7 linked regions of the Homo sapiens genome follow. The protein of the gene in region 1 purifies or fractionates together with the protein of each later gene. This does not show direct contact. Each region holds a gene or a part of one and is shown in the gene's direction. Other genes may lie near its edges.

Region 1 (4,368 bases):
TTAAAAAACACCCCTTCTAATATTTTTTTCTCCTTTTTTTAAAAGAGGAGTTTGTGTTTTTGGATTTATCTTTCTGACTTACTGATTTTTAAGTACTCCTCTGGTGGTGTGTTGAAAAACAGATCCTAAAAGTTTGCATCCAGAAGCTGACACACACAGAAGATACTTGTTGAGAATTTAAGCCCATTTTCACCTTGATGAATTTCTTCATGCTTGGATGAATCTTGGCAGACAGCAATTTTCTTGAATAAAGAAAGATGTAGTTGGTATAGAGATGCAGTCATATGAGGAGTAGAAGATGAAGCTTGAGATGGTTTTTGGTTTTTTTTCCCAATAGGGTAACAGATCTGCACTGACTTACTCACTTTTATCCATCTAGTTTCCTTTGTGCCCAGTTCCACTTCTCAGACATGACTCAAGAGATGCATAATTTACTTTAATTAAATGACCAAGCTCCCTCCTTGTTGTAGCTCATAAACTGTGAATATTGGTTACACCTGTTAACATCAGCCGCAGAACAAGTCTGCCCGTCAAAAATGTTATTATTTCATTGGGTATTTAAATGCCACAGAATTTGAGGAACTATAATTAAACATGACAATGTTGATTTTTATATTTGGATTTATAGGAGAGAGAAAAGAACTTTAATTCACTAATAAAAATATAATCTGCTCATATCCTCGAAGAATTCTTTAAAAATTCATTATGTATTTAGCACATAGCATTTAAATACATGTATTTTGGGGGCAGGGAGAATCTGTTATTTATTTACAAACATTTTTAGAGATTCTAAAGGTAAAAATTACAACTGTGATTAGAAGGCTCATTCAGAATTTATTGACACACAACTCTGCTTTCTAAGATGGTTCAATGTTTAGAGGCTGGAGGACTGGGCAAAAATAGTAATCGTAATGAATAGCTCAACTCTAGTTTCATGCACGTGCAATTTATTAATGGGGCCTAAAGTTGTAAATTTGTGATGAATTAACAAATAAGTGACATGAGAGGAAATGATAGGGGAGGAGAGAGGAAAGCATTGGGTTATTTCAGAGAAAAGTAGGCAGAGAAAGGCAGTTTAGGAGGTGACACAAGAGGGAAGCCTAAGGAGAGAGAACTGGATGGAGCTTCCCAGGTGATGACAGGGTTGAACTCCAGGGCTATACCCAGCTGAGCAGGGAGAGCTTTGCCTCTTCAGGAGACTGGAAGTTGGGGAAGACTCCAACAGGCTTGTGGTCAGAAGCTCAGGAGACTGGGAAGGAAAAGTGAATTTCTGAGGAGTCCTAGTTCATTTCATTAATTTGTTCAATTCTTTAACGTATGTTTATTATGGACCTACTATGTGCCAGACGCTGTGCTAGCTGTTAGGGACACAATGATGAACAAAATAGGCATAGTTTTTTACCCCATGAGAGTTAGAGGGTGGTGGGGAGAGTCATTAATCAAATGGCACAAACACATGTAAAATTACCATAAAGCGGGTGATACAGAAAGGCGACTGGTGTTAGGATAGCTAAAAAAGAGGGATTTCACCTGGTCAGGTGGGTCAGGGAAAGCTTCTTAGAGAAAGAGGGACTTGGGCTGATGAATGAAAGGTGAATATGCCAGGCAAAGAAGAGAGGGAGGAGGCTTCTAGGCAGAAGGAACTTCCTGTGCAATGATTCTCTGAGAATGAAAGATTAACAAAGGCCAATGTAAGTAGAACAGAGTGAGCCAGGAGGCGCAGAGTGAGAGAGAGGCCAGGGCAGGGCCATACGTGGAGCCAAAACATACGGGGCTTTGTAGGTCATGCTGAAGAGTTTACTTTTGTCCTCAGAGCAATGGGAAGTAATTGCACAGCTTTGAGCCAGGAAGGGAAAGACAGGTACTAGGCCCCATCCTCAGTGGAATTAGGTAGGTTTGGGGTGGGACCTGAGAAGTACATTTCTAAGGTTCTTAGGTGTCAGTGCCGCTACTTCAGGACCACAGTCTGAGAACCTGGCTTTAATTAATTGATATTAGAGTGAGTGAGAAGCTGGGGGAAATTTTAGGAAGGGTGCATGCATGCATAGGAGTGTTGGGATTAAAATGAAGCCTATTGATTAAATAGTCTCAGGCATAAATTGGAGAAACTATTTGTAAATAAGCCTTTCTTATAATTACCATTTGTAATAGGTATCAAAGACAAAGCAGAATGAGGCTCTTGTACGAATGCTACTTGATGCTGGCGTCGAAGTTAATGCTACAGATTGTGTAAGTTTATACTTTTAGCCATTTTGAAAAAATATTCAAAATGGTATTTGTAGGTAGCGTATTTGTCATCTGTACAGTTGCTTTATTTTCCTAGACAATTTTACATTTAGTTTTCTTTTATTTTCTCCTTTTTTTTCCCACTGACAGGCAACCTTGAGGTTATTTATATTCTGCTGAACTCATGGGAATAATACCTCTATTGATTATAAAGCATTTTTAAAATAATTGGCTTTAATGTTGTTGAGACGTTAAGGAAAACTAAGGCTCCGATAACAAAATACCAGCCATAATAGTTAAGAAGCTGGAGTGAGAATGCCCATGAGTAAACTCTGGGCTTGCCACTTTTTACTTCTATGAGTTTGAGCAAGTTGTAAACTTATTTTACTTTCAGTGTCCTCATCGGTAAAATGGGGATATGGATAATACTTATCTCATTGGGCTTGTTCATGTAAAGCACTTAGCACATGCTCAGAATGTAGTAAGTGCTCATTGAATGGCAACAGCTGCCACTGCAGCCAAAATCCCAACCCACTGATGAGAGGCCCCGTGTGCAAACTACAGATAAATAAGACAAAGGTCAAAGAAAAATCCCACTGATGGTAAGAGCAGTGATAACAACAGTAGCAGCATCCGCTCACTTCTTCCTGTTTATGAGCATAAGGTGTTGTTTTCACTTTCACCTCTGTGCTCTTGCACTCATCTTTCTTTCTCAATGATCACAGAAAGACAAAAGTTTATTTCTATGGTGTTTTGCTTATGGTGATTGAATAAAATTTTGGATTCCCAGTTCCTTATTGAAAAAGTAGGCAAGTGGAAATTTGATTCCAAAATACTAACATTCTATTTGTGATGCCTAACATATTTTACGTGTGTGCACATCTGTGTGTATTACCATTGTTTTATGATAGAGACCATGGCCCCATTCCTGTTTCTATCAATTATTTACATCATTTCGGTTTTGCCTATGCTGGTATCATGTTTAAATGCAGGCAGTTGTGTGTGTGTGTGTGTGTGTGTGTGTGTGTGAGAGAGAGAGAGAGAGAGAGAGAGAGCAAAAGAAAATAACTTTATGAAATTTATATTCCCTTTTATTTCAAATAGAACTTTTGGATAAATTTGTATTGACAGTTACTGTGCATTACCATTTCTTTAGATAGCTTTGAAATATATTAAGTAAGAGATTATTAAAGATGAAGTTAAAAGTTTGTTGAAGGTTTTTCTTGGTCTTTTCATTTAAATTCAATAGATTTAATATTCCTGCCTGTGACCAAAATTTCTCTAGGATATTTTCTCAGCAATTTATGTGTATTTCTCTCTCTAGATAGAGATATTGCATTCCTTCAGCTAGGCACAGTGACACTAGCCTGTAGTCCCAGCTACTTGGAAGGCTGAGATGGGAGGATCCCTTGAACTCAGGAGTTTGAGACACATGCAGGTACACACACAGACACCACTTCTAATACCAAAATTTTTTCAAAAACTATCTGAGTATTAAAATCTACTTTCTAGGTAAGACAGTGTTTTGTATTTTTGGATAATTAGACTCTATTTCACATGACAAAATTCAGAGCCAGAACTTCCATTTGTCATGCCACCACTTAATAAAAATAAATAATTGCAACATGATCTCCTATAATTTTAGAGGTGTTTCTAGGGAATGGGATCCAGAGCTAAACCTGTCTTGATAGCCAAAGGTACTATTTCTTCACTCACCAGCACCATGGTTGCTTGGCTACTTTTCCAAAGGCCAAATTTTGGACACTAATGCCCTAGCTATAATTTTTTTGACCTGTAGTGTTTTAAATTAGTACCAACAGAGTAGATGCACTAGCTTATAACACATAATATAAGCTATAACAAATCACGTTTGGGAAATGTCTCTGTAGAACTGCACTGATCTTGCAGGTGTCCTGCAGCAAGAGCACCCGACTTCTTCAGTAGGAATCATCACCAAAACCATAGAGGATAATGTTTATGTAAAGGGCCATGTGGAGACTCTTTAAGGGAAAGATGGTGACATGATCAAGGTGATGATCACCGAGGCATATAGCATGCGACAAAGAAACTTTGGCACAATTCAGCATCAGCTTTTTTAAGTTGCATTCTTTAGAACAGAAAATGGAAAACAAAAAGGCAGAG
Region 2 (4,368 bases), on another chromosome or scaffold:
CTCTCATCAGACTTTGTGTAAGCAAGAACTAAATCCTTACAGTGTTAAGCCTCTTAAGATTTCAGAGTGTATGTGTTACTACAGTATAGCCTGTCTTACTCTAACTAATATAAAGGGCATCTACCAAAAAACTACAGCAACTCTCCTATTCAGTGGTGAGAAGTTAGCATCATTTTCTGTAAAATCAGCAATAAGAACAAGGATGACTGCTATTTCTTCTTGTATTTAGCAGTGCAGTAAAACAAGTAAGGATTGGAATGGAAGAAACAACAGTAATAATTTGCAGATAAATTATTTACATGTTGGCTGGGCACAGTGGCTCACACCTGTAATCCCAGCACTTTTGGGAGGCCGAAGCAGACAGATCACTTGAGGTCAGGAGTTCGAGACAAGCCTAGCCAACATGGTAAAACCCTGTTTCCACTAAAAATACAAAAAAAATTAGCCGGGCATGGTGGTGCGTGCCTGTAATCCCAGTTATTTGGGAGGCTGAGGCAGGAGAATTGCTTGAACCTGGGAGGCAGGGGTTGCAGTGAGCCAAGATTGCACCACTGCACTACAGCCTGGGTGACAGAGCAAGACTCTGTCTAAAAAAGAAAAAATTATTTACATGTAAACTTTCTATGTATAAATAAATAAGTTGCTTATAAGAAGTGTATATTTAAAATCAGTTGCATTCCTGTCTGCCAGCAACAAAAAGTTAGAAAACGTAATTTTTAAAAAGGTGCCATTCACAATTTCATTAAAAAGTATTAACATATGGTACCTAGGAATAAATTTAGCAAAAGAAGTATAAAATTTTTATAGAGAAAATTACTAAAGCTTATTGATAGACCTTAAAGAAGATCTTAATACTTGGAGAGTAATGAAAACTCAGTAATATATTACTTCTCCCCAAGTTGATCTCTAAGAGTGAAAAAAATTTTGGTCAAAATCCCGGGAGGGTTTTTAAGGAATTCCTCAGGCTGATTCCTAAGTATGTGTAGAAGAGGAAAGAGCCAAGGATAGCAAAACCTCTTAAAGGAGAAGAATAAAGTGGAGACATTGACCTAGCAGATATCAAGATTTGTGAAGTTTTAGTAATTAAGACAAAGTGGTATTGGCCAGGGACAGACAAATTGTCTAACAGAACAGTAATGAGTCTCCAGAAATAGACCCACTCGTTAATGAAAATTGGACACGTGACATAGGAGCTTTCATATTAATGTAAAAAGGATGATCTTTCCAGTAAATGGTGCTAGGGCAATTGTTCAATCGGGGATAAATGATATGTACTTAACCAGTTTTTATAATAAGACTTCAGTTGAGTTTTTTATTTTCTTAATTAAATTTTTTATTTTTATTTTTTATTTTTTTGAGATGGAGTCTCGCTCTGTCGCCCAGGCTGGAGTGCAGTGGCGCAGTCTTGGCTCACTGCGAGCTCTGCCTCCCGGGTTCAGGCCATTCTCCCGCCTCGGCCTCCTGAGTAGCTGGGCCTACAGGTGCCCACCACCATGCCCGGCTAATTTTTTGTATTTTTTAGTAGAGACGGGTTTCACCATGTTAGCCAGGATGGTCTCGATTTCCTGACCTTGTGATCCGCCCACCTCGGCCTCCCAAAGTGCTGGGATTACAGGTGTGAGCCATCGTGCCTGGCCTATTTTCTCAATTAAATTTTTAAAAATGTTTATTTAATTTTTTTTAGAGCCAGAGTCTTGCTATGCTGCCCAGGCTGGGATACAGTGGTTATTCACAGGCACAGTAATAGTGCATACAGCCTCAAACTTCTGGGCTAAAGTGATCCTCCAGCTTCAGCCTCCTAGGTAGCTCGGACCATAGGCGCATGCCAATATACCTGGCCTGGTTGAATTTTATGTCATTTTAAAATACTATATATAGGTAACCTACTTTAATGATATACTTTTATTTATTTATTTATTTGAGACGGAGTTTCGCTCTTGTTGCCCAGGCTGGAGTGCAATGGTGCGATCTCGGCTTACCGCAACCTCTGTGTCCTGAGTTCAAGTGATTCTGCTGCATCAGCCTGCCGAGTAGCTGGGATTACAGGCATGTGCCACCACGCCTGACTAATTTTATATTTTTAGTAGAGATGGGGTTTCTCCATGTTGGTCAGGCTGATCTCGAACTCCTGACCTCAGGTGATCCACCTGCCTTGGCCTCCCAAAGTGCTGGGATTACAGGCGTGAGCCACTGCACTCGGCCAATGATATACTTTTAAAAAGTAAGCCCAAGAAAATGACAACTTAGGAAAAATATTTCCAACATGTATAAGAGACAAATTGTTTAGATCCTAATTTATGAAGAACTCTTAAAAATTAATAAGAAAAAAGATGGACCATTATCATTTTCCTTTCCTGATTAACTGATATTTTAAAACATTTTCTCACCCAGCAGCTACAGTGACATTGTGCGGATTTATAAAAGGTAAAAGGCTTGTTTGTCTTTTGTACTTTAAGCATGTCCCAGGTGGATGTGGATTCAGGAATTGAAAACATGGAGGTTGATGAAAATGATCGAAGAGAAAAGCGGAGCCTCAGTGATAAGGTTGGTAAGCGATGAAGCCCTTGGTACAGGTAATAGAAATAAACACATTTCATGTCTTGTATCTGTAGAGTCTGTTAGATTGGGGCCACCCGAAATCAGGAAGTCCTAGGCAGGTGATTATTTTTATTCTTTTGAGGAAAAATGAATAACCTAGATTACCCTTATTCATGAAAGTGTAACTCAGTCCTTTGATCTGATAATATCCATCTGTTTTTGGTTCAGGGCCATGATTTTATCAGTAAATTTAGGTTGTAATAGGAACTAATTTAGAGCAAATTAGAATTCTTTCTGTTGGTCTTTTGCTTTTTTTTTTTTTTTTTTTTTTTTTTTTGAGACAGAGTCTCGCTCTGTCGCCCAGGCTGGAGTGCAGTGGTGCGATCTCGGCTCACTGCAAGCTCCGCCTCCCAGGTTCACACCATTCTCCTGCCTCAGCTTCCCAAGTAGCTGGGACTACAGGCGCCCGCCACCACGCCCAGCTAATTTTTTGTATTTTTAGTAGAGATGGGTTTTCACCGTGTTAGCCAGGATGGTCTTGATCTATTGACCTTATGATCCACCTGCCTTGGCTTCCCAAAGTGTGGGATTACAGGCGTGAGCCACTGCGCCTGGCCTGGTCTTTTGCTTTTAAGCAAGTAGATCATCACATCTTTAGCAGTATTCTGAGGAAAATGACTGGGAATTGAAGCAAGAATATGTAGAATCTAGTCGCAAGTAGAAGGTTTTGGAAAACATGAAGCCTTTATATTTGAATATCACCTGAGCTTAGTGCTCTGCATTTAGGGTGTGTGTGTGTGTGTGTGTGTGTGTATTAATATAGATAATTACATCACTTTCTGTTTAGTAAATTATTAGGAATCCTTTAGCAACACATGTTAATGATTATTGGAAGTTGCACTGTAAACAAAAATAAAGACAAACAAAGGAAAAAATAAGAAGTTGCACTGTAGCCTCCTAGTGGTGCAGTGCTTTATTTTGTATAGTTCTTTAATGTTTACAAAATTCTTTTTTATATGCTGTTTTATCTGTGGTGGTATGTAATGAGAAATGTTACAATTTTGAAAAATTCCTGGAGGAAAATTGGTCATGCACCTGGAGTGTTAACCTGGTCCTATGGAATTCAGAAAAGTAAATAGATAGGATATGTACATCCTCTGTCACATATTTTTCCTTGGTGACTTTTGATAATGACTTTGCTCTTTTTTTTTTTTTTTTTTTTTTTTTTTTTTTTTTTTTGAGACAGGGCCTCACTCTGTTGCCCAGGCTGGAGTGCAATGGCGTGATCTTGGTTCACCACAACCTCCGCCTCCTGGGTTCAAGCGATTCTCCTGCCTCAGCCTCCCAAGTAGCTCCGAGTAGCCAGGCCCGCAACCGCGCCTGGCTAATTTTTGTATTTTTAGTAGAGACAGGGTTTCACCATGTTGGCCAGGCTGGTCTTGAGCTCCTGACCTCAGGTGATCCACTGGCCTCGGCCTTCCAGAATGCTGGGATTACAGGTGTGAGCCACCACGCCCGGCCATCTTTGCTCTTTTATGCTCCCCATAGATTGTATTGTAAGCTCATGAGACTTAGATGTTGTAACTTTGATGTTATAGGAATAGGCTTACTTTTCCCCTAATCAGTGGGTGAATGGTTTCATGCATTTTTAAAATATCATCACTAATAATGAATTAAATCAGAATAACGTATTCCTATTGAAACACCTAACTCATACCTCTTATTTGAAATTAACCTGCAAATCTTCTTCTTCACCAGGAGCCTTCCTCGGGCCCTGAAGTGTCTGAAGAGCAGGCCTTACAGCTGGTCTGTAAGATCTTCCGTGTCTCT
Region 3 (4,368 bases), on another chromosome or scaffold:
GACAGGTGAGAGAGAGGAAGGGGAAGTCAGGGTAGAGCCGGGGGGAATCAAAGAGGCAGAAACTCCTTTTACCCAACAAGGGGAAGAAAGCCTCTCAGTCCCTCAAGCATAGGCCGGGGTGGGGGGGGTCTCTGTCTCCCAGACCCTTGGTCTAGTTCACTCTGTCTCCTGGTGTGGCAGCCCTGAGCCTGGCCTCTGGCTGGCTGAACTGCCCCCGCACCAGCACTCCAGCACTCCCTCCCTTCCCACCCAGCCAAGGGCCGGGCCATCTTGCTGCCCATGGACCTGGATGCCCACATCAGCTCGATGCTCAGCAGTGGAGCCAGCTGTGCAGCTGCCGCCCAGCGGAACGCCTCCAGCTACAAGGCAACCACGCGGGCCTTCCCCCGCGTCACCCCCACCGCCAACCAGTGGGACTACAAGAACATCATTGAGAAGCTGCAGGTGGGTGTGGGGCTGCCTGGCATCTGCCTCGGGAGCTGCTTGGTTGAGTCAGCAGCTCCCCTACTTTGGAGGGGCAAGTTCTCGGGGAGTGTTTCTTCCTGTCCTGCCCACACTTCCAGGAAGGGGCTGGTTGGCTTCTCTACACTCTGGGGCTGCTAAGGGCCGACCCAGCAGCAAGGGACTGGGGAACCTCCTTCCAGAGGAAGCCTGGAGAACCCAGAGGCCTGCTAGTGGGGTTGGAGCTCATGAGGGGGTCGGGACCACCCCTCACTCCTGCAGCGCCCTCCTGTCTATGCAGCACATTTCTGTGCGCTGTCTCGTTGGCCTGTAGAGGGGGTGTGGTGGATTATTTTCCCCACGTGGCAGGAGACTGAGGCTCAGAGAGGCTAAGGGGTTTGCCCAAGGTCACACAGAGCTGGGAGAGAAGCCAGGCTTGGCAGCTCCCAGCCAGGGCTCTGAGCAGACAGACATCACGCTGTGTTCAGGGTGTCTCTGTGGGTGTGGGCCCCTCAGACAGAGGCAGGGCAATCTGTGGGGCTGTTTGGCGTTTGGGTCGGAGGAATGGCAGTCACACCCGGGTCATTTCTTGGGCCTGGCAATGACTCTGCCCTGCCCACCCCAGGACATCATCACAGCCCTGGAGGAGCGGCTGAAGCCCCTGGTACAGGCTGAGCTGTCCGTGCTGGTGGATGTCCTGCACTGGCCTGAGCTGCTCTTCCTGGAGGGCAGTGAGGCCTACCAGCGCTGCGAGAGTGGGGGCTTCCTGTCCAAGTGAGCGAGACACTGGGGCATGGGGGCAGCAGGGGTGCAGCGGCAGGGGACAGAGAAGGGCCCGGTGGGGACTAGACAGGCTCACTGGGTCAGAGGGCCTGGGGGTGTTCCTGCCTGGGATGGGGTGGGGAAGTAGCTGGAGGGAGGCAGTGTGGGGCTGCCCTGAGCTGCCTCCTTGGCCGGCTCAGGCTGATCCAGCACACCAAGGACCTCATGGAGTCGGAGGAGAAGCTGTGCATCAAGGTGCTGCGGACCCTGCAGCAGATGCTGCTCAAGAAGACCAAGTACGGGGACCGGGTGAGTGCCCTGGTGGGGCAAGTGCTGGGTGGGCCAGTCAGGAGTACCCAGGGGCTCAGGGTCAAGCCCGTCAGGCCAGTGGTCAGTGGTGGGCTGTACCCACAATGGGGCCTCACTCCCATCCTCCCCCAGGGCAACCAGCTGCGCAAGATGCTGCTGCAAAACTACCTCCAGAACCGGAAGTCCACCTCGCGGGGGGACCTTCCCGACCCCATAGGCACTGGTCAGTATCACCTTCCCCTGCCCCCGGGCCCTCCCTTCCACTCTCCTGTCACACCAGCTCTCCCTCAACCGAGTCCCGCCTCCAGGCCTGGACCCAGACTGGTCGGCAATCGCAGCCACCCAGTGCCGGCTGGACAAGGAGGGGGCCACCAAGTTGGTATGCGACCTCATCACCAGCACCAAGAACGAGAAGATCTTCCAGGAGAGCATCGGCCTGGCCATCCACCTGCTGGATGGTGGCAACACAGAGATCCAGGTGTGGGGGGCCTGGGGCCTGGACATGCCCTCCTTTGCCTCCCTCCCTTTTTGGAGGAGGTGGGCCTTGAGTTGGGCACTGAAGGCCGAGGAGGGTGTGAAAGAGGAGAGGCCTGAGCAGTGGCTGAGAGGTGAGAAGAGTGGGCATGATGGGGGCAGGGTGGTGAGGAGACGGGCTCAGGCCTGGCTGGGGCAGAGGGGTATGCGGGGGTGATGAAAGGACCACGTGACACAGGAGCAGATATGGGGCATGGAGCCGCCCATGGGTGGCCATGGATGCTAGCCACCAGCACCCAGGCCTGCAGCCAGGCCCCTGCAGCCCCAGCGGCCCCAGCAGTGTGGTGTGCCTGCCCCACGCCCTGAGTAGGAGCAGGGCCCAGTGCTGAGGTTGTTCCCTGGCCACTGTCCACCTCCAGAAATCCTTCCACAACCTGATGATGAGTGACAAGAAGTCAGAGCGCTTCTTCAAGGTGCTGCACGACCGCATGAAGCGGGCCCAGCAGGAGACCAAGTCCACGGTGGCAGTCAACATGAATGACCTGGGCAGCCAGCCACATGAGGACCGCGAGCCAGTCGACCCCACCACCAAAGGTCAGGGGTCTGAGGCAGAGGCACGGCGTGACGGGGATCCCAGGATAAGATGTGCAGGGGGGTGGCCAAGGGGGTGGGCAGCTCCAGCCTCACCAGGTCTCGCCCACAGGCCGCGTGGCCTCCTTCTCGATACCTGGCTCCTCATCCCGCTACTCGCTGGGCCCCAGCCTGCGCCGGGGGCACGAGGTGAGCGAACGTGTGCAGAGCAGTGAGATGGGCACATCCGTGCTCATCATGCAGCCCATCCTGCGCTTTCTGCAGCTGCTGTGTGAGAACCACAACCGGGACCTGCAGGTGAGTGCCTCGCCACACACCTGCCCCTTCCCCCGCTGGCCAGCCGGCATGCAGACTAGGCAGTGTGGCTGGTGTCCCTCTATGGCAGGTGTGCCCTGCCCTGGGCACTGCTGCTTTGTGGCTGGTGGTTCCCCTACCCCTGCAGCACACAAGATCGTGCTTCCCAGGCCAGCCTCCCTCTCCGTGCTGTAGCTGTGCTGTGCCCAACCCTTCTGTGCCCCGCAGAACTTCCTGCGCTGTCAGAACAACAAAACCAACTACAACTTGGTATGCGAGACGCTGCAGTTCCTGGACATCATGTGCGGCAGCACCACGGGCGGCCTGGGGCTGCTGGGGCTCTACATCAATGAGGACAACGTGGGCCTCGTCATCCAGACCTTGGAGACCCTCACTGAGTACTGCCAGGGCCCCTGCCATGAGAACCAGGTGAGCTGTCCTGGTGGCATAAGTGGCAGCCAGGGTGGCAGTGTGGACATGTGGGTAGATGGAGCCAGCTGGGGCAGGGAGAGAGGCTGAGGTCTCTGGAGCTGCCACTATTCTGAGAGGGCCTGGGCCCTGTGTCCCCCACTGCCTCCTGCCAGACTTGCATTGTGACTCACGAGTCCAATGGCATAGACATCATCACCGCACTGATCCTCAATGACATCAGCCCCCTGTGCAAGTACCGCATGGATCTGGTGCTGCAGCTCAAGGTGGGGCCCAGTGGCAGGTGTGTGAGTGCTGGGTGTGCATGTGATGTGCATGCATGTATGTGTGACTTGTGTGTCAAGTGTACATAGTGGTGTGTAATGTGGGTGTTAGCATTGTGTGATGGGGCATCATCTGGATGCACAAGTGTGTGGTGTGTGCAGGGTGTGTGTGTAATATACGCATGTTTAAGCATGCTGGAACATACACTCACTCTGGATGCAAATATATTCTGGTTTAGCTGAGGACTTGCTATGTGTGTGTCTGCTGTCTGGGTAGCTGAGTGTTTGCCACAGCGGGGGTGAAGGCAAGCCTATGGGTGGGCTGGCTGTGCAGGATGCTTCTCATTAAGCCGGGGGGAGGGAGGATGGGAAGGTCATGGCACCTGACCTTTTGTTGGATGGGAGAGCTGTTATGGAGAGGAATGAGGGAGAAGTTGTCAGGGGCATGGTGTCCTGAGACTGTGGCCTGCCTCCCTCTGCCCCTCCACCCAGGACAATGCCTCCAAGCTGCTCCTGGCTCTGATGGAGAGCCGGCATGACAGTGAAAATGCTGAGCGAATCCTCATCAGCCTGCGGCCCCAGGAGCTGGTGAGGCTGGGCAGGTGGGCAGGCGGGCGGAACCAGGTGGAGTGTGTTGGGATGGGGATGAGGGCCCGGCTGGCCCTACCGCCCTAGGAAGAGAGCATTGGAACAGGCACTGCCCCTCCAGGTGGACGTCATCAAGAAGGCCTACCTGCAGGAGGAAGAGCGTGAGAACTCGGAGGTGAGCCCACGTGAAGTGGGCCATAACATCTATATCCTGGCG
Region 4 (4,322 bases), on another chromosome or scaffold:
AAGGAGAGAATCTTTCATCTGCACTATTTTCTCCCACTAGGTGATCGTCACATCAGTTCCAGGCCAAGAGCTAGAGGTTGAAGTCTTTGACAAGGACTTGGACAAGGATGATTTTCTGGGCAGGTGAGAGCATAGGAGTCTACGTGAAAAACAGGCTGGGGCTCTTTAGGCCATGGAGTCTGGCCTCCTTGGTTCTCACCATCTAGCTTTTGTCTTAATCTTTCTCTTCAACAGGTGTAAAGTGCGTCTCACCACAGTCTTAAACAGTGGCTTCCTTGATGAGGTGAGCATTGAATTAGAGTCAACAACCCCTCCTGATCCTGCCCAAGCTTCATTCTCAAAGTTCTCCTGTCTGCATATCCCCAAGTCTTCACCCTGCCTACTTCCACAGTGGCTGACCCTGGAGGATGTCCCATCTGGCCGCCTGCACTTGCGCCTGGAGCGTCTCACCCCCCGTCCCACTGCTGCTGAGTTAGAGGAGGTAGGGCAGGAGACTTGAGGAAGGAAGGGACCCAAGGTGGGGCAGGATGAGCTCTTCTCTTAGCGTTCAAGGCACATGCCAGAACCCAAGGTGTCAGTTACCACTCCCCAGCCCCGTGTGCCCCTCCACAGGTGCTGCAGGTGAATAGTTTGATCCAGACTCAGAAGAGTGCGGAGCTGGCTGCGGCCCTGCTATCCATCTATATGGAGCGGGCAGAGGACCTCCCGGTGAGATCCCGCTCCCCATGCCCCATAACTTCCTGGCCCTTCTTCCACCTTCCTCCGGTTTGGATGGTCCTGGAGTATTTAGAATAAGAAAAATGGCCCCTCTCTTTCTGAGGGTAGTGCAGGGGTGGGAAAAGTTGTCTGTTCAAGGCCACGGGTAGTGGCTGCCAAGTAATAATGGAGACATGGCTGCTGGCTGTGGATATAATTTGTGAGGGGGATCTGCCTAACTAGGTCCAAATTTAAGACTAACACAGTATTGTCTTTCTAGCTGCGAAAAGGCACCAAGCACCTCAGCCCTTATGCTACTCTCACTGTGGGAGATAGTTCTCATAAAACCAAGGTATGAAGAAATGCTGCAGGGTAAAAATGGGAGGGATAAGAGAAATAAGAGTATCAGCTACTGATCATAAGCCCTCATCTCCACCAGACTATTTCGCAAACTTCAGCCCCTGTCTGGGATGAGAGTGCCTCCTTTCTCATCAGGAAACCACACACTGAGAGCCTAGAGTTGCAGGTACTGTAAATTCATTCTTCAAATATTTAGCAGATTTCTGCCATGGCCAGGCAGGAAACCAGGCACAGAGCATTCAGAGATGAGATAAAAGGTTGACTTTTTTTTTTTTTTTTGAGACAGAGTCTTGCTCTGTCGCCCAGGCTGGAGTGCAGTGGTGCTATCTTGGCTCACTGCAAGCTCCGCCTCCTGGGTTCACACCATTCTCCTGCCTCAGCCTCCCAAGTAGCTGGGACTACAGGTGCCCGCCACCACACCTGGCTAATTTTTGCATTTTTTTTAGTAGAGATGGAGTTTCACCATGTTAGCCAGGCTGGTCTCGAACTCCTGACCTCAGGTGATCCGCCCACCTCGGCCTCCCAAAGTGCTGGAAATACAGGTGTGAGCCACCGCACCCGGCCAAAAGATTGACTTCTTATCTTTATGGAGCTCACACTCTGTTTTGGGAGAAAAATAACCAGATGAAACTTTCAGAATGATAACTGAGGTAAAAGGCACTGTGGGGAAGAAAGGAAGGGTTCAGGCTGGGGAAAGGCTGGAGATAGAAAGGCATCCTTAGATGACCCCTGAGCTTGAGGGTAGATTTTTTTTTTTTTTTTTTGAGACTAGAGTCTCACTCTTATTGCCCAGGCTAGAGTGCAGTGGCGCAATCTCAGCTCACTGCAACCTCAGCCTTCCAGGTTCAAGCGATTCTCCTGCCTCAGCCTCCCGCGTACCTGGGATTACATGCGCGTGCCACCATACCCCACCAATTTTTAGTAGAGACGGGGTTTTGCCATGTTGGCCAGGCTGGTCTTGAACTCCTGACCTCAGGTTATCCATCCACCTCAGCCTCCCAAAGTGCTGGGATTATAGGTGTGAGCCACTGCACCCGGCCTTTTTTTTTTTAGACAGGGTCTTACTCTGTCGCCCAGGCTGGAGTGCCGTGGTGCAATCAGGGCTCACTACAGCCTCAACTCTTGGGCTCTAGCAATCCTCCTACCTCAGCTGGGATAACAGGTGCACACTACCACACCTAGCTAATTTTTGTATTTTTTTGTGGAGATGAGGTTTTACCATGTCATCCAGGCTGGTCTCGAACTCCTGGACTCAAGCATTCTGCCCGCCTCGGCATCCCAAAGTGCTGGGATTACAAGCGTGAGAACCGCGCCCCAGCCTAAGGGTAGATTTACTGGTTCTTTCGGACCACGAAAAGAAGAGCAGGAAAACTCTTTAGGCTGAGAAAAAAAATGGAGGAGAGAGAAGGCATATTTATTATAGATCAGAGAGGCAGGCAGAGCAAGATCATAGGAGCTGTTGAATAGTATGCTAGAAATATGGATTTTATCCTAAGGCTTAGGGAAGCCTTTGTTTATTTTATTTATTATTTTTTTGAAACAGAGTCTTGCTCTGTTGCCCAGGCTGGAGTACAGTGATACGATCTCAGCTCACTGCAACCTCCCTCCTGGGTTCAATCGATTCTCCTGCCTCAGCCTCCCGAGTAGATGGGATTATAGGTGCCCGCCACCACGCCCAGCTAATTTTTGTATTTTTAAGAGAGACGGGGTTTCACCATGTTGGTCAGGCTGGTCTCTAAGTCCTGACCTCAAGTGATCCACTGCCTCGGCCTCCCAAAGTGCTGGAATTACAGGCGTCAGCCACCACACCCAGTCAGGGAAGCCTTTAATGAGAGGTCACATATCCAGATTTGCATTTTGGGAAGATCATAGGGATAAGAGGGTAAAGAATGGACTGGAGAGGGACAACACTGGGGGCAGGGAGATCAGTGAGGAGACTGTTAGAGCAGTCAAAGCAGGAAACGACTAAAGCCTGATGGGATTTGAAGATTGCTGTGATATGGAGCAGGTGGAGGAGCAAGGAACAGCCTAGACACTAACTCTGGGGTTTTTGGCACAGGGTGGCTAGATGGATAAGGGTGCCGTTGCTGACTTAGGGAGTGCACAGAGAGGGAATTTTGGAATTTGAGATCTCTGCAGGACATCCAAGAGAAGACATGCAGAAAACAAATCTATTGTCCATGAGGTGTTCCTCCCTTGCCCTCTTATTGGAACATCATGAGCAAGCAACCACTCATAAGTGTAGTCATGGGTGAGATCTCTTAGGCAGCGTGGAGAGTGAGGAGACAAAAGATGGCCATGAGCCATCTTACAGGTGTGAACCACTGTGCCCGGCTGAAATTAATAGAATTTAAAATAATGTAACTTAATGCTAGCAGAGTAGAAAGGAGGTACAAATGAGCTCAGTTCTTCATCTTTTATAGCAGGGAATCAATAGATACAAGCATATTAGAATTCCGTGAGAACAAAGAAAACAGGAGGGTTTTAAAGGTTGTTACATTTGGAATATGGCAATAGGAGTAGGATGGGCAAGAAACATTTACTTTTAGTTCTGTTTTTACTGTTGTTTTCTGTATGCTGTAGGTATTACTGGTATAATTTCTGAAAGCTAGGTTGGGCGCGGTGGCTCACGCCTGTAATCCCAGCACTTTGGGAGGCCAAGGCGGGCAGATCACAAGGTCAGGAGATCGAGACCATCCTGGCTAACACGGTGAAACCCTGTCTCTATTAAAAATACAAAAAATTAGCCGGGTGTGGTGGCGGACACCTGTAGTCCCAGCTACTTGGGAGGCTGAGGCAGGAGAATGGCGTGAACCCAGGAGGCGGAGCTTGCAGTGAGCTGAGATTGCGCCACTGCACTCCAGCCTGGGCAACAGAGCGAGACTCCGTCTCAAAAATAATAATAATAATTTCTGAAAGTTTATGAGGTAAAGATGGTCCACTCTACTCTGGTTAAGAAAGGAAGGACAGGCCAGACACAGTGGCTCACACCTGTAATCCTAGCAATTTGGGAGGCTGAGGTGGGTGGATCACCTGAGGTTGGGAGTTTGAGACCAGCCTGACCAACATGGAGAAACCCCAGCTCTACTAAAAATACAAAATTGGCTGGGCGTGGTGGCAGGTGCCTGTAATCCCAGCTACTCAGGAGGTTGAGGCAGGAGAATCGCTTGAACCTGGGAGGCGGAGGTTGCGGTGAGACCAGATCACGCCATGCACTCCAGCCTGGGCAACAAGAGCGAAACTCTGTCTCAAAAAAAAAAAAAAGG
Region 5 (4,368 bases), on another chromosome or scaffold:
ATAAAAATGGACAGTTGGAAAAAAAGAAACTTAAGCATTTGAAAACACAACCTGCCATTACTATTAAAATAATTCACATATTTATATTCTTGGAATAATCAGCTTTAGACTTAATAACATTCGTTAACCTAAGCAGTCATAATCAAAGTTCTGCAATTCCTTGATTTCCAGAATTTGTGGATGAAAACCTTCATTAGAAGCTTAATGGATTATTTTTTCTGAATCTCTCAGTAAGCTATTTATGGGGTGGGTGTGGGTGAGCATCAAGCTTATTGGATCTTGATTACTCTTTTTCATTGAAGAATGAAAACAAATGGGAACTTTTCTTGACAGATAATATGAATTTATAGGCCACCAAAATATTACAGATAAATACACAAGCCATACAGATAAAAGAATGATAGTAAACATATATTATTCAAATATAGAAACAACCTTGCCAAAATGAACAAAGTCAGCTTTTCTTTTTTTTTTTTTTTTTTTTTTTGAGATGGAGTCTCGCTCTATGCCCAGGCTGGAGTGCGGTGGCACAATCTCGGCTCACTGCAACCTCCGTCTCCTCGGGTTCAAGCGATTCTCCTGCCTCAGCCTCTCAAGTAAGTGGGATTACAGGTGTGTGCCACCACACCCGGCTAATTTTTGTATTTTTAGTAGAGATGGAGTTTCACCATGTTAGCCAGGATGGTCTCGATCTCCTGACCGATCCACCCGCCTCGGCCTCCCAAAGTGCTGGGATTACAGGCATGAGCCACTGCACCTGGCCCAAAGTCTGCTTTTCTAATAAAAGTCTGCCTACATTCTGGGGAAGCAACTTTCCTTCCTCTCCGTATACCCAGAATGACAGAGAACAGTCGAAACTATTTGAGCACCTTCCATCTACCCCAAGACAAAAGCATGTATGTGACTATCATACTCACATTTTAGTTCCATTCTGGTGAGCCACAGAATACATACCTGCCTGAATGATTAAGCGCAAACTGAATTTGTGTAACTAGGATATTTCTAATGTACAGGTAATCTGACTAATCAACAATTAACTTGTCAAGTACTGATACAAGACTGTGCTAGAAGTGGTAGTGTAAGATACAGTTCTTTCTGTCAAAATCTCTTTGGAAGAGAAAATAACCTCTTTGTTTTAACGTGGCCCCACTCCAATCCATTCTCCACACAGCTGCTAGAGTGAACTTTCTAAAATCTCATTGCATCATTTCCCAGTTTAAATTCCTTCAGTTTCTTACTGTTATCTGCAAGAGTAAAATTATTGAACACAGCATTCCAAGTTCTTCGTGATCTAATGCCTGCAACTTCTCAAACTTCATCCCTGGGGCCACTACCCTTGCTCCCCACCAAACACACACAGGCAGTTTATCTTGCTTGGTATTTCTACCCCTCCTTGTCTCCCTCCCTTCCTTCTCTTGCCCAGTTAACTTAGTTCAGTTGTGTCCCTTATAGGCAGCCTCCTTCACCCCTCTCCTCTGATCTTGAATGCAAGTTAAAGAATTTGATAATTGTGAGTCACAGATATTTCCACAGGGAAGAAACATGAAAAGTGCAGGAGTTTTGTGAAAATACATTTGACAGATTTGGTGGATTTAAAGTAGGAACAGACCTAGCATGGTGGCTCTTTCCTGTAATCCCAGCACTTTGAGAGGCCGAGACAGGAGAATCGCCTGAGGCCAGGAGTTCAAGGCTGCAGTGAGCTCTGAATGCACCACTGCACGCCAGCCTGGGCAACAGAGTGACCCTGTCTCAAAAAAAAAAAAAAAAGAGGCCGGGCGCAGTGGCTCACGCCTGTAATCCCAGCACTTTGGGAGGCTGAGGCGGGTGGATCATCTGAGGTCGGGAGTTTGAGACTAGCCTGATCAACATGGAGAAACCCTGTCTCTACTAAAAGTACAGAAAAAATAAGCTGGGCGTGGTGGCGCATGCCTGTAATCCCAGCTACTTGGGAGGCTGAGGCAGGAGAATCACTTGAACCCGGGAAGTGGAGGTTGCGGTGAGCCGAGATCGTGCCATTGCACTCCAGCCTGGGCAACAAGAGTGAAAATCTGTCTCAAAAAAAAAAAAAGAAAAAGAAAAGTTGGGTTAGCAGTTATGAATCAGTTGGGAGGGGTTAACCCTGGCACGTGAGAGGCAGGGGAAATATAATGACTTGAAAGTCATTACAAAGAAAACCTGTAGTAAGTATTTTAAAGCAAAAAATAATTTGTGAGTTCTATAAATTCACCTTTTTTTATATTATTGGGAGTATAATGTGATATTTGCCATGGAAGTTATAAAGTCTTACAAGTCTTAAAGTCTCATGAGATATCTCAGCAAATAATTGGCAGGAATGCCAAAGTAAAGACACAGTTACAGAAATGAACAGTGTATTCATTCATTCATTCATGAGACAGCGTCTGTCTCTGTTGCCCAGGCTGGAGTGCATCTTGGCTCACTGCAACCTCTGCCCCCCGGGCTCAAGCCATTCTCTCACCTCAGCCTCCTGAGTAGTTGGGACTACAGGTGTACGCCACCACACCCAGCTAATTTTTGTATTTTTTTTGTACAGATGGGGTTTTGCCTTTTTGCCCAGGCTGGTCTCAAATTCCTGGACTCAAGTGATCTGCCCACCTTGACCTCCCAAAGTGCTGGGATTACAGGCATGAGCCACCGTGCCTGGCTGAGAAATGAACAGATTTAGATACTTCCAGGATATTTCTATTTAATACTTCACCAGGATGCTAAATTACCAGTTTATAATAACAAATTCTACAATTACATATTCTAATACCTCAAACAAAATATGACATGAACACCTGTGATATAAAAGGGCCATTTAATGGCTCACGCCTAAAGCGCTGGCACTTTGGGAGCCCGAGGCGGGTAGAACTCTTGAGGCCAGGAGTTTGAGGCCAGCCTGGCCAACATGGCAAAACCCCATCTCTACTAAAAATACAAAAATTAGTCAGCATGGTGGCACACACCTGTAGTCCAGCTACTCGGAAGGCTGAGGCACAAGAATCGCTTGATCCTGAGAGGAAGAGGTTTCAGTGAGCCAAGATCGCACCGCTGCACTTCAGCCTGGGCGACAGAGCAAGACTCCATCTCAATAAAAAAAGTGGGAGGGGGACATTTAAAATGTGTTTTTGTCATTACCTAGAGCAGTGATTTGAGGATTGCCCCCCAAATGTCATAAATTGGTATATCAGAAGATAGCTCTTGAATTGCTTAGGGGGCTCCTGAAAAATAAGGACTCTAGTGGCTGGTATATCGTGTGAGTGATAACAGCAATGGATTAGTCAGTCGCACACTGGCATGTGGTATGTGTGGCCCACTCTTGCAGGAGAGCTGTTCTGTCCCTGGCATATTCAACGTTTTAAGAACTCATAGCCAGTACTTTCTAGCATATACCTGATACACCAAGTTGTTTCTCATGGTTGATTATGTGAGCTAACTGGTCACAAAATATAGCACTGTACAACTATTGGTTAAATTTTCAATAGTATAAAACTTTATTAGACTTTCATCTGCTTTGAAACAATTTTTCACCATAGTGTTCCCTTTTTTTTTTTCCTTTTTGAGACAGAGTCTTGCTTTCTGTCACCCAGCCTGGAGTGCAGTGGCCCAACCTCAGCTAACTGCAACTTCTGTCTCCAGGGCTCAAGCAATCCACCCACCTCAGCTTCCCAAGTAGCTGGGACTACAGGCCCATGCCACCATGCCCAGCTAATTTTTAAATTTTTAAAATTTTGTAGAGACGAGATCTCACTATATTGCCCAGGCTGGTCTCAAACTCTTGGACTCGAGTGATCCACCCACCTCAGCCTCCCCAAGTGCTAGGATTGCTAGTGTGAGCCACCCTGCCCAGCCAACTATAGTTTTCTAAACCAACAAATTCTACTTATTTTCCAGCCTAAGCAAATGCTTACTTGGGCTGTTGTGATTTCCATCAATATCTGGTTGTTCTTCTTGGAAAGTAAGAATAGAAGATAAAATATAGTTTTAAAAAATATGTAAGTCCAAGGAAATGAATCGTATGTTTTATGCCAACACAGACAGACAAAAAACAAAAAAAATTCCTTCACCAACTCAGGAGTGCGGACATACGTATGGTCTTTGATGAGTCTCAGTATATTTTCTGCTTTCTTTTAAGCTCCTACTATTGCTAGTAAATGACTTTAAGGATCCATTCAAATATGAATTGCTATACAAATTCCTCTGAATAAGTGGCAAGATCCCATGTCTTACCTGGAATAACATGTCCTCAACTTTACTGTAATGGGAGAAGTTAAATCTTTTAAGATTTGTGGAGAACGAGAGCTGTTGCAAGCCAGAGATTACTGTAGAAAGACCAAATAACAGTAAGATGATAAGCTTTTAGACTTT
Region 6 (4,368 bases), on another chromosome or scaffold:
TAATAAAGATAGCTGCTTGACTTCTGTATTTGGCCCTTGTAAAATAACATTAATTTCTTCTTTCTTTGGTTCCTAGAAAGTAGTAGATGAAGTTGTTCTAAATTGAAAGTAGTAGATGAAGTCTAGCATGGTGCTGTTTCTCATAGTACCCAATATAATGGTTTAGTGTGGATACATTTGGCAGGCAATAATTGAGTTTTGTTAGTTCAGGAAAAAAAAACAAAGGCTATATGTAATCTTTCTCCATATTGGGATATTATAGGTGGAACGAGAACTTTGTTCAGCCACAGCTGAATTTGAGGATTTCGTCTTACAGTTTATGGACAGGTGAGCTTGTAACCCACACCAACGTTTAGCTGAAATTCTAGAAAATGACTCTTCTATCCCAGAAAGTTTAGTTTATTTCTGCATTATAACCTTTATTTAGCTACTACTGGTGCTCCTGAAGTTATAAAAGGATAATCGATTTGTGAACCACGTAGAAATTAAGTAGCTATCACTTGAATAATTAGGACAATAGAGAGTTACCTGATGACCACCAAAAATGTCAAACCAGATTTTAGTTGCTGAAATTATGCTTTGTTTGGATTATTTAGATGTTTTGGACTTATAGAAAGTAGCACATTGGAGCAAACAAGAGAAGAGACAGAAACTGAGAAAATGACACACTTGGAGAGTTTGGTCGAATTAGGTCTGTCTTCTACGTTTAGTACAATCCTCACCCAATGTTCCAAAGAAATATTTATGGTAAGAACATTGCTGCAAAAAATAAACTTCCAGCTTTTAAGTTTCATTTGATGTTTTAAAATTGACTTCAAGTTACTTTGTGTATATCATGCAGTTTATCATTTACATTCATACTAAAGTTTTAAAGAAATGTACAGTTGCTCATTATTTGCAAATTTCGTATTTGCAAATTTACCTGTTTGCTCTAACTATTTGCAACCTGAGAATCAAGCTTTTGCGACTGACAAAAATTCAGTTACTTAAATTTGATCTCACATATGCCATGTGTTCTCAGCTGAGAGCAAACGAGGCACTCTGCCGTCTTATATCCAGCTCCACTTAAACAACTGTCCCCTTTGCGATCTATTTAATGCCACTTTTTTACATTTTTTTGCTTCTTATTGGTGATTCTGCTGTTTAAAAATGTCAAAAATGGCTCCCAAGAGTTTATTGTTTAAAGTGGTTGAGGGTTCCTAAGCATAAGAGAGTTGTGCTGTGCCTAATGGAAAAAACACTGTGCTAGGTAAGCGTCAACAGGCATGAGTTATGTTGCTGTTGACTGCGGATTAAATGTTAGTGAATCAACAATATGTATTAAATAAGTTGTCTGTAAACAGAATCACACTTAGGATTATGTATTGATCAGTTGATGAAAATGTTGTCACCATAGGTTCACAGGAACATAATCCTGTATTTCCCCTGGGAGCAATGGTTCAGTATTTGCTAGTTCAGTGGTCACAGCAAATTTATAGAACATGACTACCATGAACAACAAGAAACAACTGTCGCAGGGGGGATAGCATTAGGAGAGATACCTAATGTAAGTGACGAGTTAATGGGTGCAGCACAGGAACATGGCACATGTATACATATGTAACAAACCTGCATGTTGTGCACATGTACCCTAGAACTTAAAGTATAATAAATAAAAAAAAGAAACAACTGTATTTTTTAATTTTACAATTAAAAACAGTTACTCAGCTGAGTTTTAGAAATTGCTTATGACATCACTCCCATGATAGAAATTAAATCCTAAGACTAACTGATGGATTAGAAGTAGTTATCTTCATAAGACATTCAGTAAGCATTCACTAATTCAATATTGGTTGGTACCTATTATTTGTAATGTGGTACCTATTATCTGTAGCCTTTAAGACTACACTTTATTTTCATTTCTGTTTCTTCTCCCATCATCTGTAATTATCACTGTTAAATATGTTAATCCTAGAAGCCAAACTGCCTTATAGCTGTGTGAAATAAATACTATGATTATGTTAGTATAAAGAAATGAACACAAATCATCTCTTATTTAACCAAAAAGAGTTGTTTATACTTTTCAGTATTGTTAACCCAGGTATAGAACTCATTCTTCCATTGAGCAAGTAAATTAAAGTTTTGTGACATGACTGTAAAATAAACAGACTGCTTCAGTTCTTTTAGGGTAAGGATAGATGTCTAGTTTGTAGTTGTCAGGATGACAAATTGTATTAGGTATTCCAAAAAATTCCCTTTGTTATATTCAATTAGCCAGAAAGACAATTAAATTGCATTTGCTTCCACCAGGTATAATTTTATGTGTAGGGTTTCTGTGGCAAGTGAAATCTTGTACCTCAATTTTTTTTTTTTTTTTTTTTTTTTTTTTTTTTGTTAACTCTGTCACCTGGGCTGGAGTGCAGTGTCGCGATCTCGGCTCACTGCAACCTCCACCTCCCGGGTTCAAGCAATTCGCATGCCTCAGCCTCCCGAGCAGCTGGGACTACAGGCATGCGCCACCATGCCTGGTCAATTTTTGCATTTTTAGTGGAGACAGGGTTTCGCCATGTTGGCCAGGCTGGTCTTGAGCTCCTGATGTCAAGTGATGCTCCTGCCTCAGCCTCCCAAAGTGCTAAAATTACAGGTGTGAGCCACCACATCCAGCCAGTACCTAAAATATTTTGTTCAAGTTAGGATCGTGGGCAAAGATTGTTCTTAGACCTGAATGTAACATCATTAAACAAATTCTTATAAAATCAGATGGTTAAAAATTGCCTATGGGCTTATTTTTGGAATTGTCTAAATATATTTATCATTTTCTTTTATGTTCTGTAAGATGTTTAATTTTCTTAAAAAATGCTCATTAAACATTTTCATATCTTAACAGGTGGCCCTTCAGAAGGTTTTTAATTTTTCTACTTCACATATATTTGAAACAAGAGTAGCAGGTCGCATGGTGGCAGACATGTGCCGCGCTGCTGTAAAGGTGAGTTTATTTTTTTGAACTGATGTATTAATGACTCAACAATCAACTAGTTTATATGGTTAATTATTAGAGGTGCTTCTATGCTTAAAATGCATAGTTCTTTCAGTAGCTGCTTATTTACAGCCTTTTACTGCCACTGAAAATATAATCTTGTATATATTTGCCTTTCAAAAAAGCCTTACTTATACAAATACATTTTCAGTGCTGCCCAGAAGAATCTTTGAAGCTCTTTGTTCCCCACTGCTGCAGTGTTATAACTCAGCTTACAATGAGTAAGTCATAAGGTCATTATTCTCTCTTTACAATTTTGGATAAGTTTTTTTCTTGGTTTCTAAAACTCTGTTAATGACAACAGATTCCTTTAGCTTCACAATATTTTGATTGGCAATTTGGGGAAAATTTGTCTCCAAAAAAGATATCATCCAGGTTGGCAGTAGCTTAAAAATGTTACTTTATTAATATTCTTATACAACCACCATTCAGAGGTTACCTTCAAAAATATCAGTTATTTTGTGAGATATAGAGGGGCAGAAGTCTTGGTTGGTGTGTTTATTTTCTTGAAAATTCTGTTTCTACCTCCTTTTGGAACAAGCTCAGCTTCATGAAGAAGAAATAAAAAGTCTTCCTAAAAGAGGTTTTCCTCAGCTATTGGAAATATTAAATAGAAGTATTTTAAAATGCTATATTTAGTTGAATGCATAGGTTTTTCCCCCTAATAGTATTTTGCTGTTTTTAGATGATGATGTATTAAATGATGAAGAGCTAGACAAGGAATTACTATGGAATCTTCAACTTTTGTCTGAGGTATTGTAAATCTTTGGAATAAGAAACATGACTGTGAAAACACTGACTTGCTTTTAGGATTTAGCTCTTTCTGACAAAATGACTTTAAAACATATGAAAAGTCAGAGTTTTGGAAATTTGATGAGGCTTCAGAAGATCAGAATATGTCATACTCTTATTGTCAAAGGAGTGGTGTAGTTGATCACTGCATGTTCAGCCATCTACTTAGTTTTACCAGTTAATTCTAATATGGGTAACTCATTAATTGAAAAAGTTGATCAGATTTGGGAATTTTTTTGGTCTACACTTTAAATTTGGCCATCAATCAAACTTCAGTTTTCTTTTCTTTTCTTTTCTTTTCTTTTTTCTTCTTTTTGTCTCACTATCGCCCACGCTGGAGTGCAGTGGTGCAATCTCGGCTCACTGCAAACTCCGCCTCCCAGCTTCACGCCATTCTCCTGCCTCAGCCTCCCAAGTAGCTGGGACTACAGGCATCCGCCACCACGCCCGGCTAATTTTTTGTATTTTTAGTAGAGACGGGGTTTCACTGTGTTAGCCAGAATGGTCTCAATGTCCTGACCTCGTGATCCGCCTGCCTCAGCCTCCCAAAGTGCTGGGGT
Region 7 (4,368 bases), on another chromosome or scaffold:
ATCTGCAACAATGGCCGCCTATAATTTTTATTTGACACCAGATTGGATTCCTGCCTCTAATTTAGCCTTCCCACTTCTGCCAGTTTGTTCTTTCTAACAACATAGCTCTGATCATGTCATATCCTTCCTCAAAACCTTTATGGCATTTTCATTAACTATTAGAATTCCTGTCCTAGTTTCGAGGCCTCTTCACCACCTGGCCCCATCCTACATTTTTGGTTCTATCCTCTAACATTTCCTTTTATACCCCCTGACCCTGGCGTTCCAGCCACATTGAACTTGCTGTCTTGAGGAGATGTCCTTGTCTCAGTGGCATTGCTCATACTTGGAATTGTTCTTTTCCACACCTCTCAGGCTCCAAATCTTCATCTTTTGAGTTCCTGTTCAAATGCTCCCATCTCTGTTGCAGGTCCCTGCAACCCCTGACTGTAACTCTCCTTAACTTCCATGATTCTTTCTCGGAGCTCTTGTCACATTCATTGCTTTATGCTTTTTGTTTTTTGGGTACATGATGTATTTAACTTCATGTTCTGAGTCCTAGGGAGTTCTTCCTAAGCACTTAGCAAATATGTGTTGTAGGCAATTAGTAGCTATATATGATCAGTAGACTCCACGGGGGAATAATAAGCGGATTAAGAGTTGACAGGTCCCTAGGGACTGAGAGTGCGGGGAAAGCACAGGCGTAAAGCAGGTGTCTTAACACTGGCTTTAGAAGATCTAGAAAACTAGTAACCAAGAGCTTTTAACATGGTTCTTGTTAAGATGTGAAGAGGTAAGATAACTAATTTGAGTGGCTATTGTATGCCAGTCACCGGTCTAGGTATTTTATGTATATTCACTCATTTGAACTCTGGCCAGATGACATTCTTCCCTTCTGTAATATTACCCCTTGACCTCTTTTTTTTTTTTTTTTTTTTTTTTTTTGGAGATGGAGTTTTCGCTTTTGTTGCCCAGGCTAGAGTGCAACGATGCAATCTCGGCTCACGGTAACCTCCGCCTCCCGGGTTCAAGCAATTCTCCTGCCTCAGCTTCCGGAGTAGCTGGGATTACAGGCATGCACCACCATGCCCGGCTAATTTTGTATTTTTAGTGGAGACGGGGTTTCTTCATGTTGGTCAGGCTCATCTTAAACTCCTGACTTATGGTGATCTGCCCGCCTTGGCCTCCCAAAGTGCTAGGATTACAGGCATGAGCCACTGTGCCCAGCCCCGTTGACTTCTTGTTACACTTAGAATAAAATACAAAGTCAGGTGGTGGCTCGCGCATTTAATCCCAGGACTTCGGGAGGCCGGGGCAGGAGGATCACTTGAGCCTGAGAGTTCAAGACCAGTCTGGGCAACATAGTGACACACCCCATCTCTAATTAAAAAAAACAAAACAAGACTCCATAAGTAGCCCTACGGGACCCCAGACTCACACTGTACGACTTCCTCACCTTTCCATCTTCTCTGACCAGCTCCTTACCTCTGCTCCCTCCTCTAAAGCTTTTTGCCCATGAATCCCAAATTTATGTTTTTTCATTTCAGCTTTAAAACCCTACCCTGTTATGATAACAATAATGGAGTACATTGCCCTTGTGTGGTTCTTCATACTTTTTTTTTTTTTTTTGAGATGGAGTTTCGCTCTTGTTGCCCAGGCTGGAGTGCAATGGTGCCATCTCAGCTCACTGCCATCTCCGCCCCCCACTGGGTTCAAGCGATTCTCCTGCCTTGGCCTCCGGAGCAGCTGGGATTACAGGCACACACTAACATGTCCAGCTAATTTTTCTATTTTTAGCAGAGATGGGGTTTCACCACGTTGGCCAAACTGGTCTCAAACTCCTGACCTCAGGTGATCCATCTGCCTCGGCCTCCTAAAGTGCTAGGATTACAGGCCACCATGCCCAGCTCTTCATAATTTTTCAAAGCACATTCTTCTTATTTCGTTTGATCCTATTTCAGTCCACAATTTTCCACATACCTTTTCTCAAAAATAAGAGTATAGAAGAGTTGGGTGCAGTGGCTCACACCTGTAATCCCAGCACTTTGGGAGTCTGAGGCAGGCGGATCACTTGAGACCAGCCTGGCTAATATGGTGAAACGCTGTCTCTAATAAAAATACAAAAAATTAGCCAGGTGTGGTGGCAGGTGTCTGTAATCGCAGCTACAGGCTCCTACTGAGGCGGGAGAATCACTTGAACCTGGGTGGTGGAGGTTGCGGTGAGCCGAGCTTGCGCCACTGCACTCCAGCCTGGGCGACAGTGCGAAACTCCATCTCAAAAAAAAAAAAAAAAAAGTATAGAGGGATTGAAATGCCAAGAAAACTTGACAGTTTATCAAATAACATCTTTGCCATAAATCTTAATGCCAGTTGTGGGACTGGCCTGTGGCTCCTTTAAGCCTTGGAGTTGTAACAGAAAGTTTTCTTCAGATAGTTTTGTTAATCACACTGTTTAAAATGTGCTATGAAATTTCTTGGATCTTTGGAGAGAAACAAGATACTGTTATAATAATTACTGTGGAGATGTCACTGGAAAGGGGATCCAGACCCCAAGAGAGGGTTCTTGGACCTCGTGCAAGAAATAATTCAGATTGAGTCCATAGAGTAAAGTGAGTGTAAGTTTATTAAGTAAAGAAACAAAAGAATGGTTACTCCATAGGCAGAGCAGTAGCTTGGACTGCTCGACTGATAATACTATAATTATTTATTCATTATATGCTAAACAAGGGGTGGATTATTCATGAGTTTTCCAGGAAAGGGGTGGGCAATTCCCGGAAATGAGAGTTCCTCCCCATTTCAGGCCATATAGGGTAACTACCTGACGTTGCCATGGCATTTGTAAATTGTCATGGCGCTGGTGGGAGTGTCTTTTAGCATGCATGCTAATGTATTATAACTAGTGCATAATGAGAAATAAGGACAGCCAGAGCTCACTTTTGTCACCATCTTGGTTTTGATGGGTTTTGGCCGGCGTCTTTACCATCACCTGTTTTATCGGCATGGTCTTTGCGACCTGTACCTTGCACCGACCTCCTATCTCATCCTGTGACTTAGAAGGCCTAACCTCCTGGAAGTGCAGCCCAGTGGGTCTTAGCCACATTTTACCAAGCCCCTGTTCATAATGGAGTCGCTTTGGTTCAGATGCCTTTGACGGAGAAGGTAACTTTTCACTATATATTCTTTGTACAGTTCAGGTGTTTGGTTAAACACATGCTTGTAGTATCTGTTTAAATTAGTTATATGTATATGTATACTCTGGGAAGTGGCTCTTCTCATTATTACAATTTTTTTCGAAAAGCAATCAGCTTTTATTTGACAATTTGGAAAATACAGGAAGAAAAAAAGTTATTCCGGCCAGGCACGGTGCCTCACGCCTATAATCCTAGCACTTTGGGAGGCCGAGGCGGGTGGATCACGAGATCAGGAGTTCAAGACCAGCCTGACCAAGACGGTGAAACCCCATCTCTACTAAAAATACAAAAATTAGCCGGGTGTGGTGGCAGGCACTTGTAACCCCAGCTACTCGAGAGGCTGAGGCAGGAGAATCGCTTGAACCTGGCAGGTGGAGGTTGTAGTGAGCCGAGATCGTGCCACTACACTCCAGCCTGGGTGACAGAGTGAGACTCCGTCTCAAAAAAAAAAGAAAAAAAGTTACTTCGAATCCTACAATAATCCTGAAATAACCAATTGGGATTGTCATTTAAAAATGAACTTTTTTTTTTCTTCCCCTGAGACAGGGTCTCACTCTTTCACCCAGGCTGGAGGGCAGTGGCACGATCTCAGCTCACTGGAACCTCTGCCTCCCTGGTTGAAGTGATTCTCCTGCCTCAGCCTCCTGAATAGCTGGGATTACAGGCATCCACCACCATGCCCAACTAATTTGCATTTTAAGAAATAGGGTTTCACCATGTTGGCCAGGCTGGTCTCGAACTCCTAATCTCAAGTAATCCACCCACCTTGGCTTCCCAAAGTGGTGGGATTACAGGTGTGAGCCACCGTGCCGGGCCAAAAATAAACTCTTGAATGGATGTTCTGTAAAACATTTACACTTCCTTTAAACAGGTATTTCCAAGTATGTGGATTTTTGTTTATTTGGTTTTGAGGGAAGGTCTTACTATGTTGCTCAGGTTGGAGTGCAGTGGCGCATCAGCTCACTGTAGCCTCAAACTCCTGGGCTCAGGCGATCCTCCCACCTCAGCCTCCTGAGTAGCTGGGACTACAGGCATGCACCACTGTGCCTGGCTCATTTTCTTGTTTGTTGAGATGGGGTCTCACTGTGTTGCCCAGGCTTGTCTTGAACTCCTGGGCTCAACTGATCTTCCCACCTCAGCCTCCCAAAGTGCTGGGATTACAGACATGAGCCACTGTGTTCAACCCAAATATGATTTT

Evidence for each region.
Region 2: the proteins of ANKRD22 (region 1) and UBE4B purify together in Homo sapiens (co-immunoprecipitation; one large-scale study listed by IntAct). This does not show direct contact.
Region 3: the proteins of ANKRD22 (region 1) and ITPR3 purify together in Homo sapiens (co-immunoprecipitation; one large-scale study listed by IntAct). This does not show direct contact.
Region 4: the proteins of ANKRD22 (region 1) and ESYT1 purify together in Homo sapiens (co-immunoprecipitation; 2 studies listed by BioGRID and IntAct, with this or other methods). This does not show direct contact.
Region 5: the proteins of ANKRD22 (region 1) and PKP2 purify together in Homo sapiens (co-immunoprecipitation; one large-scale study listed by IntAct). This does not show direct contact.
Region 6: the proteins of ANKRD22 (region 1) and PSME4 purify together in Homo sapiens (co-immunoprecipitation; one large-scale study listed by IntAct). This does not show direct contact.
Region 7: the proteins of ANKRD22 (region 1) and LAPTM4B purify together in Homo sapiens (co-immunoprecipitation; 2 studies listed by BioGRID and IntAct, with this or other methods). This does not show direct contact.

The regions. Positions count from the first base shown.
Region 1 is NC_000010.11:88,823,899-88,828,266, reverse strand, and holds part of ANKRD22 (ankyrin repeat domain-containing protein 22), read left to right. Parts: intron 1-2,151; coding exon 2,152-2,229; intron 2,230-4,368.
Region 2 is NC_000001.11:10,098,652-10,103,019, forward strand, and holds part of UBE4B (ubiquitin conjugation factor E4 B), read left to right. Parts: exon of another isoform or gene 1-17; intron 18-2,456; coding exon 2,457-2,544; exon of another isoform or gene 2,545-2,555; coding exon of another isoform or gene 2,556-2,573; intron 2,574-4,296; coding exon 4,297-4,368. UniProt on the Homo sapiens protein: Ubiquitin-protein ligase that probably functions as an E3 ligase in conjunction with specific E1 and E2 ligases. May also function as an E4 ligase mediating the assembly of polyubiquitin chains on substrates ubiquitinated by another E3 ubiquitin ligase.
Region 3 is NC_000006.12:33,682,954-33,687,321, forward strand, and holds part of ITPR3 (inositol 1,4,5-trisphosphate-gated calcium channel ITPR3), read left to right. Parts: intron 1-253; coding exon 254-444; intron 445-1,066; coding exon 1,067-1,215; intron 1,216-1,403; coding exon 1,404-1,512; intron 1,513-1,644; coding exon 1,645-1,735; intron 1,736-1,820; coding exon 1,821-1,990; intron 1,991-2,405; coding exon 2,406-2,580; intron 2,581-2,689; coding exon 2,690-2,874; intron 2,875-3,099; coding exon 3,100-3,300; intron 3,301-3,455; coding exon 3,456-3,566; intron 3,567-4,055; coding exon 4,056-4,151; intron 4,152-4,272; coding exon 4,273-4,368.
Region 4 is NC_000012.12:56,137,792-56,142,113, forward strand, and holds part of ESYT1 (extended synaptotagmin-1), read left to right. Parts: intron 1-40; coding exon 41-123; intron 124-234; coding exon 235-283; intron 284-391; coding exon 392-481; intron 482-612; coding exon 613-708; intron 709-976; coding exon 977-1,048; intron 1,049-1,135; coding exon 1,136-1,222; intron 1,223-4,322. UniProt on the Homo sapiens protein: Binds calcium (via the C2 domains) and translocates to sites of contact between the endoplasmic reticulum and the cell membrane in response to increased cytosolic calcium levels.
Region 5 is NC_000012.12:32,886,194-32,890,561, reverse strand, and holds part of PKP2 (plakophilin-2), read left to right. Parts: intron 1-4,368. UniProt on the Homo sapiens protein: A component of desmosome cell-cell junctions which are required for positive regulation of cellular adhesion.
Region 6 is NC_000002.12:53,921,918-53,926,285, reverse strand, and holds part of PSME4 (proteasome activator complex subunit 4), read left to right. Parts: intron 1-262; coding exon 263-327; intron 328-596; coding exon 597-747; intron 748-2,866; coding exon 2,867-2,965; intron 2,966-3,167; coding exon 3,168-3,237; intron 3,238-3,701; coding exon 3,702-3,769; intron 3,770-4,368. UniProt on the Homo sapiens protein: Associated component of the proteasome that specifically recognizes acetylated histones and promotes ATP- and ubiquitin-independent degradation of core histones during spermatogenesis and DNA damage response.
Region 7 is NC_000008.11:97,799,588-97,803,955, forward strand, and holds part of LAPTM4B (lysosomal-associated transmembrane protein 4B), read left to right. Parts: intron 1-4,368. UniProt on the Homo sapiens protein: Required for optimal lysosomal function. Blocks EGF-stimulated EGFR intraluminal sorting and degradation.